Linked DNA regions of Homo sapiens: region 1 is linked to region 2. The links come from fine-mapping of genetic effects on gene expression. A gene starts in region 2. The other region holds a variant in brackets. All regions are shown on one strand. Distances are between the middles of the regions. Region 1 has its middle 73 kb from the start of SKAP2. Region 2 holds the start of HOXA10 (homeobox A10).

The links. PIP is the estimated chance that this variant, and not a neighbour inherited with it, causes the effect.
Region 1: its variant is the best candidate, but not a certain one, in a credible set for the expression of HOXA10 in whole blood (INTERVAL, PIP 0.57).

What each region holds. Positions count from the first base shown.
Region 1 is chr7:26,934,425-26,939,799 of GRCh38, reverse strand. No RefSeq gene overlaps it. Among named protein-coding and RNA genes, the nearest start is that of SKAP2, 73 kb to the right of the region's middle. The variant C/AC (reference allele first, on the strand shown) is at 3,385.
Region 2 is chr7:27,171,373-27,176,747 of GRCh38, reverse strand. It overlaps HOXA10 (homeobox A10), which reads left to right and starts at 2,428. Exons shown (of 2, transcript NM_018951.4): 1 at 2,428-3,399; 2 at 4,575-5,375. The coding sequence starts at 2,442. The coding sequence ends at 4,849. The region is part of intron 1 of HOXA10-HOXA9 (HOXA10-HOXA9 readthrough); the gene reads left to right. HOXA10-AS (HOXA10 antisense RNA) reads right to left here. Exons shown (of 3, transcript NR_046609.1): 3 at 4,833-5,375. RefSeq lists enhancers at 1,728-2,373, 2,374-3,020, 4,729-5,228.

The DNA.
Region 1 (5,375 bases), 240 kb after region 2:
AGGAAAGGAAACTGTGTTGTGATAAAGAAAGCTCTTAATTGGCCGGGCACGATGGCTCACACCTGTAATCCCAGCACTTTGGGAGGCTGAGGCGGGCGGATCACCTGAGATCAGGAGTTCGAGACCAGCCTGGCTAACATGGAGAAAACTCATCTCTACTAAAAATACAAAAATTAGCTGGGCATGGTGGCAGGCGCCTGTAATCCCAGCTACTCGGGAGGCTGAGGCAGGAGAATTGCTTGAACCCAGGAGGTGGAGGTTGCAGTGAGCCGAGATCACGCCACTGCACTCCAGCCTGGGCGACAAGAGTGAAACTTCACCTAAAGAAAGAAAGAAAAAAAAGCCATAATGAAGGGTCTGAAGACAGGTGCTACTCTTGGTTCTTATAATTAATTCTGTGCTATTATGCAGCTCTCTTAACTCCTTTCACCTTAAAAAAAATCACTGTGTTGAGGACCATCTAGTAGTGAATGCAAAGACAGGAATGCCCTGGGAGGTGGGGTTAGTTTCATGTCCATAGGTTTGCTCTGCAGAATCAAGATCTGTGGGATCCAGTTAAATTTAAGAACATGGGCTAAATTCTCAGTATTTTAAACAGGACTTCTTGTTTTTTACTTAACCTAATTAGCTGGATAATCTTGGAAAATTTTCTTAACTATTCTTGGTCTTACTTTTCTTGTCCATGAAATAGGATATTAGATTCCCAATTCCCAAACTGTGACCAAGGTGCCTTGGGGTGCTACAGTTAACTCACAAGGGTGTTGCAGGACATTTTAAAATTTCAAGGGAAATAGAATGATACTTGATGTTTTTCAGACACCAGGCAAAACAACAGCTTGCAATAGTTCACAACATTAGCTCACACTACATGTCTTTCAATGCCATCTCTTTGTAAAGCTGGATTTTTGGTCATTGCTATGATAAAAACAAGTACTATGTAGAAATCAGTGTAGAACGAGAAAGAAGGGAGTGCAGTTTAATTCCAGCGTTTGAGATGTGAGTGCTGAAGAGGGGTACATATCTCATTAGGAAGTAATTGTGGCTGTTTAGAAGTTAAGTAAAAATATGATTTGGTTTTAATTTGTTTGTGTGGCTATGTGTGTGTGTGTGTAAGACCACCTCCTAAGTTATCAGAACCCAAATACTTACTAAGTATTTGGACCTAACTACTTAATTAATGAGACTGTTAGTTATTTCTTTTGGCCTAGGGGCACTATGAAAAATTACTTAAGACATTTATAGTGCTATGACCTGGGAAAGTTTGGGTACCTCTGGTCTAGATAATCTTTAAGATTTTCCCCAAATTGCTTTATTTTACAGCAGCTTCCAGCCCCAGAACTATCCCTAGAAAATGATTAACAGGCTAATGCTTGTTAAGATGTTACAGGAAAGAGAAAGCTAGAATGTGACTCAGAGGAGTAGTCTGGGCTGCAGTGCACACCTAAGGGTAAGGACAGTCTAGTTCTGACAACTTTTTCATGGGAGTGAGTGGAAAGTCTCTTTCTAGATCACTCTTTGGTCACAATATGTATCATTTTAGGGGAGTATGTGCCCCAAAGATTTTCCTTCCTATTTTCAAATTTAGAGTTAGGTTACTAACTATTAAGAATATCTCCCTCTTGCTGAGAGAGCTTCCCTACTGGGTCACAAGATAGATTCTCAGCCAAGGGGTTGTTCCTGGCAAGTTAAACTGGAACTTGGAATACATTTACATGTAGAACAATGTTACGAATATTTTATATAGTTCAATCAGTCCAATTTATAGCATTTATCAAATGTTCAGGAATATGTTTATGACATTTAGATTTTTGGCTTTCTATGGATGAAACATACAAGTGACTTACCAAAATCTTTTCCTGGAAATGCTTGTTAAACACACTCATTGCACCATTAGAAGCTTTCTTACAGTACCTTTTCCAAACTATTAACTTTATAAAAGAGGCCAAATTCCCCAGAGCAAACAACCAACCAGAACTCTGGAAAAACCAAACAAACTATAATGTTCAGATATGCTGACTGATTAGAAAAAGAAAATTGTGTTTATATCAAGAAAGCTTTGAATGGTTTAATGAAAATATTAATAATAATGAGTTGCTAAGTTGCTGCAGGTTTAAGAAGCATTCCTTTGAATTGGTTTCTTAATCATGTAGGAACTCATTCTGAATGCAGAAACCATTCTCTTGTATACAGCAGTTTAGTCAATGAGGAAACAAGAAAATTAGGTGTCCTTTCTCCAAATTAAACAAATAATGCCAAGCAGATTTGGATGTGCAACCCTAAGTAGACACAGATGTAGGGCAAATATTTTCACCATGACCATTCTGCTGCTTCTGATTATGGGTTGGAATTTTAGATGTCATAAATGAAGCATCTTTTTTCAACTGAATCAATGTGACTAAGAATAAACATAAATAGGGTTCATATGATAAATCCTAGGTTTCTCATTTAAAATTATTTAAATTTTTTCCTGAGATGTATATTTTTCCATTTTATTATTATTATTATTATCATTATTATTTGAGATGAAGTCTCGCTCTGTTGCCAGGCGTGATCAGTGGCGTGATCTTGGCTCACTGCAACCTCCGCCTCCTGGGTTCAAGTGATTCTCCTGCCTCGGCCTCCCGAGTAGCTGGGACTACAGGTGCGCACCACCACCCCCAGCTAATTTTTGTCTTTTTAGTAGAGATGGGGTTTCTCCATGTTGGCCAGGATGGTCTCGATCTCTTGACCTTGTGATCTGCCCACCTCGGCCTCCCAAAATGCTGGGATTACAGACGTGAGCCACCACGCCCAGCCTGTTTTTCTTATACTTACAGTAAACCTGGTACTTTCTTATGCTAAAGAGAAAGATATGAAAGTTTAACTGACATATCTATAAATATCTTATTACATGTGTAATATATTTATATACCCTATATTGAATCAACATTTTTTTAAGAGAAACATTGTGTTGCAGTCAAAATAAAAAGCACTAAATTTGGAGGATCACCTGTTTGTAGTCTATTCTGTTACATACTAGCTATGATCTTTGTCAAGTAATTTAACTTTTCTGTGCCTGTTTCCTTATCCATAAAGCACTAAAAGTGATTTTGAGGCTGGCCACAATGGCGCACGCCTGTAATTCCAGCACTTTGGGAGGCTGAGGCAGGCGCATCACTTGAGGCCAGGAGTTTGAGACCAGCCTGGCCAACATGGAGAAACCCCATCACTACTAAAAATACAAAAATTAGCTGGGCATGGTGGCAGGCGCCTGTAATCCCACCTACTCGGAAGGCTTAGGCAGCAGAATTGCTTGAACCAGGGAGGTTGCAGTGAGCCGAGATGGCACCACCGCATTCCCGCTTGGGCAACAGAGCAAGACTCCATCTCAAAAAAAAAAAAAAA[C/AC]ATTTGGCTGTATGTAGTACATATCCCCTATACTGGTTCTTAAAATTTCACATTTAGTATTCAGGGGTTCAGTATGAAGCCAGATATTTATATATTTTGCTTGCTGGGTGTTTGCCTCCTCAACTCTTTTCTTCCAAGTTTCTTTTTTTTTTTTTTAATTATACTTTAAGTTTTAGGGTACATGTGCACAACGTGCAGGTTTGTTACATATGTATACATGTGCCATGTTGGTGTGCTGCACCCATTAACTGGTCATTTAACATTAGGTATATCTCCTAATGCTATCCCTTCCCCCTCCCCCCACCCCACAACAGGCCCCGGTGTGTGATGTTCCCCTTCCTGTGTCCATGTGTTCTCATTGTTCAATTCCCACCTATGAGTGAGAACATGCAGTGTTTGTTTTTTGTCCTTGCGATAGTTTGCTGAGAATGATGGTTTCTAGCTTTATCCATGTCCCTACAAAGGACATGAACTCATCATTTTTTATGGCTGCATGGTGTTCCATGGTGTATATGTGCCACATTTTCTAAATCCAGTCTATCATTGTTGGACATTTGGGTTGGTTCCAAGTCTTTGCTATTGTGAATAGTGCCGCAATAAGCATACGTGTGCATGTGTCTTTATAGCAGCATGTTTTATAATCCTTTGGGTATATACCCAGTAATGGGATGGCTGGGTCAAATGGTATTTCTAGTTCTAGATCCCTGAAGAATCACCACACTGACTTCCACAATGGTTGAATTAGTTTACAGTCCCACCAACAGTGTAAAAGTGTTCCTATTTCTCCACATCCTCTCCAGCACCTGTTGTTTCCTGACTTTTTAATGATTGCCATCCTAACTGGTGTGAGATGGTATCTCACTGTGGTTTTGATTTGTATTTCTCTGATGGCCAGTGATGATGAGCATTTTTTCGTGTGTGTGTTGGCTGCATAAATATCTTCTTTTGAGAAGTGTCTGTTCATACCCTTCGCCCACTTTTTGATGGGGTTGTTTGTTTTTTTTCTTGTAAATTTGTTTCAGTTCTTTGTAGATTCTGGATATTAGCCCTTTGTCAGATGAGTAGATTGCAAAAACTTTCTCCCATTCTGTAGGGTGCCTACAGAACTACCATTCTGATGGTAGTTTCTTTTGCTGTGAAGAAGCTCTTTAGTTTAATTAGATCCCATTTGTCAATTTTGTCTTCTGTTGCCATTGCTTTTGATGTTTTAGACATGAAGTCCTTGCCCATGCCTATGTCCTGAATGGTATTGCCTAGGTTTTCTTCTAGGGTTTTTATGGTTTTAGGTCTAACATTTAAGTCTTTACTCCATCTTGAATTTATTTTTGTATAAGGTGTAAGGAAGGGATCCAGTTTCAGCTTTCTACATATGGCTAGCCAGTTTTCCCAGCACCATTTATTAAATAGGGAATCCTTACCCCATTTCTTGTTTTTGTCAGGTTTGTCAAAGATCAGATGGTTGTAGATATGCAGCATTATTTCTGAGGGCTCTGTTCTGTTCCATTGGTCTATATCTCTGTTTTGGTACCAGTACCATGCTGTTTTGGTTACTGTAGCCTCGTAGTATAGTTTCAAGTCAGGTAGCGTGATGCCTCCAGCTTTGTTCTTTTGGCTTAGGATTGACTTGGCAATGCGGGCTCTTTTTTGGTTCCATATGAACTTTAAAGTAGTTTTTTCCAGTTGTGTGAAGAAAGTCATTGGTAGCTTGATGGGGATGGCATTGAATCTATAAATTACCTTGGACAGTATGGCCATTTTCATGATATTGGTTCTTCTTACCCATGAGCATGGAATGTTCTTCCATTTGTTTGTATCGTCTTTTATTTCATTGAGCAGTGGTTTGTAGTTCTCCTTGAAGAGGTCCTTCACATCCCTTGTAAGTTGGATTCCTAGGTATTTTATTCTCTTTGAAGCAATTGTGAATGGGAGTTCACTCATGATTTGACTCTCTGTTTGTCTGTTATCAGTGTATAAGAATGCTTGTGATTTTT
Region 2 (5,375 bases):
ATACTGGACCTTCCCAGATGTCGGCCTGGGAAGTTGCTTTCTGCATTTAGCCTGGAGAGGCATGACTCTAGGCCCAGGTCCTGGCCCACTGACCTGCCACGGCTCATTATCCTTGAGGAAACCTCGAAGGTCTTGGGACCCACTTGCCAAATGACACAGCTTTTCTGAGAGGCATGGGCAGTGCTGAAGAGCAAAGCTTCCTTCCTAGGCAGCCCCCAGCTCTGTGGCATTTCCAGGTGGCATTGCTAAGGGCAACAGTCCCAGCCAGTTCCACCCTTCTGGTGAGCAGGGTAAGGACCAGGCAGATCCGGGAAGCTAAAGATAGGGCCACTGGCTGCGGTGCTCTGAAGCTTTTCTGCACTCAGGTTCGTCCGTCTCATGGGCCTAGAGGGTAGAGAATTTGCCTTGGCCTTGGGCGCAGGAGCATGCGAAGAGCGAAGGAGAGTTAATGATCTCTTGGCACAGACCCTGTCTTGATCCCTCTAAAGCCGCTGCTGCAGCTTCAAGACCCTGTCAGGCTGGAGAGAACTGGCTTTCTTATTCTCTCTCCCCTCCTGTTTCTCTCTCTTTTCTCTCCCTCTGTCCGTCTCTCCTTCTATCTCTCTCTTTTTCTCTCCATCCTCCTCCTCCGCACCCTGATGCTCAGTCCTTACGGCCGGGTCACCGTGGGGCGCCGAGGTTGAAGTGGCTGGAGCGCCGCGCTAGCGGTGGAGCGGCCTTCTGGGCCCGGAGCTCGGAGCAGCCACTGCCCGCAGCGACCGCAGCTGCTTGAATCTCAGAAGCCAGAGCTGGAGCTCTACCTAGCCAGCTCTCTCTGCGCTTTCAGGGTCCTCTCAGGCTCCTCTTCCACCTTGGGCTGGATTCACACTGGGAGGAAGGAGGCAAAGTGCCGCGTATGACCCGGATGCAAGAGTCTTTCCCAGCTGAAGGCAGCGGCCTGAGCGGTCTATTTCCTGGGATGCCGGCGTTCAGTAATGCCAGCTCCGACTGGGGCCGGAGGGGCGGGCAGGCCTAGAGTATCCTGGAGACCTGTAGCCCACGGGCCAGGGGCAAGGCAGCGACCTCCCGGGCTCCACTGGATCTGGCCGGAAAAGGTTGCATTTCCTGAGACTAGCATGAGGCTCACACTTGGGGGCTAGCACCCCAGGCCGGCCATTTCCAGTTGGCTAAAACAGAGCCCCTGAGCCTGCTGAGCAAAGGGCCTGACCTCCACATGCTCTTATAACAGGACCATGAGCCCAGCCCGGCCTTGCAGGGAAAGGATTTCCTCACCGAGGCCTCGTTAAAATGCACACACTGCAGGAGCAAGGACTGCCCTAGCTGAGGGTATGGGAGGGAGGGGAAGAGGGGAGGGGACAGAGAGGTAGGAGTGTAGTGACACTGGTTCTTGTTGTAGCCTCCAGGAGCATATGAGTGCCAAAGCTAACAGGAGAGCAGGAACATAAAGCAGCGGAGGTGTACACCGGGCACACCCCTCCAAGTCTCTCACTTTGGGCCAGCCAAGGACCCCAAGGCCAGCATTTTACTTCCCCGAAATGACTGTGGGCTTAGAGTCTTCCCTAGGTGATGAGGGGATGCTTGGATCTGGCTCTGGCCTTGGGAGTGGGAGTGGGGCCGTCTTTCCATCAAGGCTGGCAGCCGCTTCCCACCCCCAGTCCCGCCAGCCCACCAAAGTCCACTGACAGGAGTTGTAGAGAAGGCAAGCCGGGTGAGCACAACACCAGAGGAGAAGATCCTAACTGGATCAACGGACTAGGGGAGAAAAGTGTTGGGGGTTAGGGGCTAGGGAACAACCACTGCATTTTGGGGAAAAATCTGTGGATACTGGAAGTAGAGGCAAGTCAGCTTCTAGTTCACTCTGGGCTCCTGACACTCTGAGGATCCTGACGGCCATAGGGCCAGGTTCGCCACTTTTGAGGAGGCAGAATTCAGACAAGGGGCCAGTTCCAGATCCAGAGCTGAATGGGAAGCGCGTGAGTCCCCGACACGGCCGCTTCAGTGGTTAGAGTACACCGGGGACTAGTGGCAGCTTCTGCGACAGGGATGGTGAGCACCCAAGGCAGACTGGGCGCGCACCATAAACACCCCACTTGTTAACTGCGCGGGGCCCAAGGGCCCTTCTAAGGGACCCCGGTATGGGGCTCACGTCCGGGTAGGGGCGGGGCGAGCCCAATGGCCAGGCCCCCCACCAGCCACGTTGGGGCAGCCCCCACAGCTCCCGGCCTTCGGGCCAAGGTGTCGGGGTGCGTCTCCTGGCCCATCAATACAGATTACATATTTATATCAATCGCGGGCTCTGAGGGCGCCCTCGGAGAGCGGCCCCGCGCCTACGAAACCAAACTGGGAGTGGTCGCGCGGAAACTCTGGCTCGGGATTGGCTGCGGGCGCCCGCCGCGGTGCGGGGGGATTGCTAATCGTATTCAGCATGTTTTGCACAAGAAATGTCAGCCAGAAAGGGCTATCTGCTCCCTTCGCCAAATTATCCCACAACAATGTCATGCTCGGAGAGCCCCGCCGCGAACTCTTTTTTGGTCGACTCGCTCATCAGCTCGGGCAGAGGCGAGGCAGGCGGCGGTGGTGGTGGCGCGGGGGGCGGCGGCGGTGGCGGTTACTACGCCCACGGCGGGGTCTACCTGCCGCCCGCCGCCGACCTGCCCTACGGGCTGCAGAGCTGCGGGCTCTTCCCCACGCTGGGCGGCAAGCGCAATGAGGCAGCGTCGCCGGGCAGCGGTGGCGGTGGCGGGGGTCTAGGTCCCGGGGCGCACGGCTACGGGCCCTCGCCCATAGACCTGTGGCTAGACGCGCCCCGGTCTTGCCGGATGGAGCCGCCTGACGGGCCGCCGCCGCCGCCCCAGCAGCAGCCGCCGCCCCCGCCGCAACCACCCCAGCCAGCGCCGCAGGCCACCTCGTGCTCTTTCGCGCAGAACATCAAAGAAGAGAGCTCCTACTGCCTCTACGACTCGGCGGACAAATGCCCCAAAGTCTCGGCCACCGCCGCCGAACTGGCTCCCTTCCCGCGGGGCCCGCCGCCCGACGGCTGCGCCCTGGGCACCTCCAGCGGGGTGCCAGTGCCTGGCTACTTCCGCCTTTCTCAGGCCTACGGCACCGCCAAGGGCTATGGCAGCGGCGGCGGCGGCGCGCAGCAACTCGGGGCTGGCCCGTTCCCCGCGCAGCCCCCGGGGCGCGGTTTCGATCTCCCGCCCGCGCTAGCCTCCGGCTCGGCCGATGCGGCCCGGAAGGAGCGAGCCCTCGATTCGCCGCCGCCCCCCACGCTGGCTTGCGGCAGCGGCGGGGGCTCGCAGGGCGACGAGGAGGCGCACGCGTCGTCCTCGGCCGCGGAGGAGCTCTCCCCGGCCCCTTCCGAGAGCAGCAAAGCCTCGCCGGAGAAGGATTCCCTGGGTAAGCAGGGCTGCAGAGGGCTGCAGTCAGGCGGGCAGACAGGCAGACACAAGGAGGAGAAGGATCAGAAAACTAGGAGCCCGCGCAGCAGCCGGCCGGCCTTGGCCCAAGCTGCAGGCAGGCTGACCTTGTGAACTTGCTTTTTAATATTTGGGCGTGGGGACGCAGTAAAATTCATGTCCGGCTTAGCGCCCCACAGCAAGACGTCCTCGGCGCTGGCCTCAGCTCCCCCTGACTAGGGACGAGGACACCAGCGAGCAGGCCCCCTCCTGTGCGCTCTTTCCTGTGGCCGGGAGGACCCAGAGCCCTGGTCCCTGCCCAGCCTGCGCGGCGCGGCCCACGCGGGGGGAGGGGGAGGGAGGGAAAGTAGCTCGCCCGCAGATAGCGCGGATGTTTGTAAGGCATCCAAAATAAGCAGCCGCCAGCGCCAATAAATAAGCCCATTAACCGGCGAAGTTCGAGTTTACGATCCCCCATGCTTTTTTCAAAGTTGCTGAGGGGCGGGAATCTTCGTTGCGGGAAGAAGAAAAGGCAAATCCGGCCTGGAAGCGGGGGGCCCTGAGCTGAGAGCCAGAGAAGGGCCATTTCCCTTCCCCTGGACCTCGGAATCGCCCAGCTATCTATCCCTGGCTCCTGGAGAAACTTGAGGGAGGGCCCTTGACCCCCGAATCGGTTTTTCCTGCCTTCCCCATTGGACCAATGATGCCCTTCTTTCTCCCCTTATCGAGTCTTGGGCAATCAGGGCCCTGGGGTGAGACAGCCAAGCTGCCTGGCCCATCTTCCAAGTAAGCACCCCGCGCTCCTAGCCTGGGGGCTACAGGAAATGCTTGTCTGCCATATGGCAAGAGGCAAAGAAAAGCGTTAAGTTCAAGATGTACAGCCTGCCCTCCCAGGCCTTTCCTTCTGCAAGCATCTACGGCTTAGCGCTAAAACAGGTGTTTGGAAAAGTGGGGGAAATGTAAATTGGAAGGGTCATGTAGATTGAAGGCCCACTCAATTTTTGTCATGACTTTTGGAGGAACTGCTTGCTCTCAGCAAGCCAAAAACGGGGGCACGACTCTCTTCTCTGTGACTTGGGACATCTCTCTTATGGGAGAAACGGAGGCAATTCACCCCCGCGGGCAGCCCGTGTGGCCTCGACTTAATCATCCCCTCTTTATTCTCTTACATGCCAGGCAATTCCAAAGGTGAAAACGCAGCCAACTGGCTCACGGCAAAGAGTGGTCGGAAGAAGCGCTGCCCCTACACGAAGCACCAGACACTGGAGCTGGAGAAGGAGTTTCTGTTCAATATGTACCTTACTCGAGAGCGGCGCCTAGAGATTAGCCGCAGCGTCCACCTCACGGACAGACAAGTGAAAATCTGGTTTCAGAACCGCAGGATGAAACTGAAGAAAATGAATCGAGAAAACCGGATCCGGGAGCTCACAGCCAACTTTAATTTTTCCTGATGAATCTCCAGGCGACGCGGTTTTTTCACTTCCCGAGCGCTGGTCCCCTCCCTCTGTCTTCAGGCTCTGCCCAGGAACTCGCACCTGTGCTGGAGCCCTGTTCCTCCCTCCCACACTCGCCATCTCCTGGGCCGTTACATCTGTGCAGGGCTGGTTTGTTCTGACTTTTTGTTTCTTTGTGTTTGCTTGGTGCTGGTTTATTTGTTGTTTTCTGGGGGAAAAAGCCATATCATGCTAAAATTCTATAGAGATAGATATTGTCCTAAGTGTCAAGTCCTGACTGGGCTGGGTTTGCTGTCTTGGGGTCCCACTGCTCGAAATGGCCCCTGTCTTCGGCCGAGCTGGTTTCCTGCCCAGCCTGGGGCAAACCTAGCCGGAAGGCCGAGGTCCCATTGTTGGCGCTGAGGTGTCTGGCCTGAGGTCAATGGTGCAAAGGAGCCGCCACCGGGCATGTCTGCCTGGAGTGCTGTGCTGTGTTTAATCAGGGGATACAGGCCCCTGGGTTTCTTTTTTCTTTCTTCCTTTC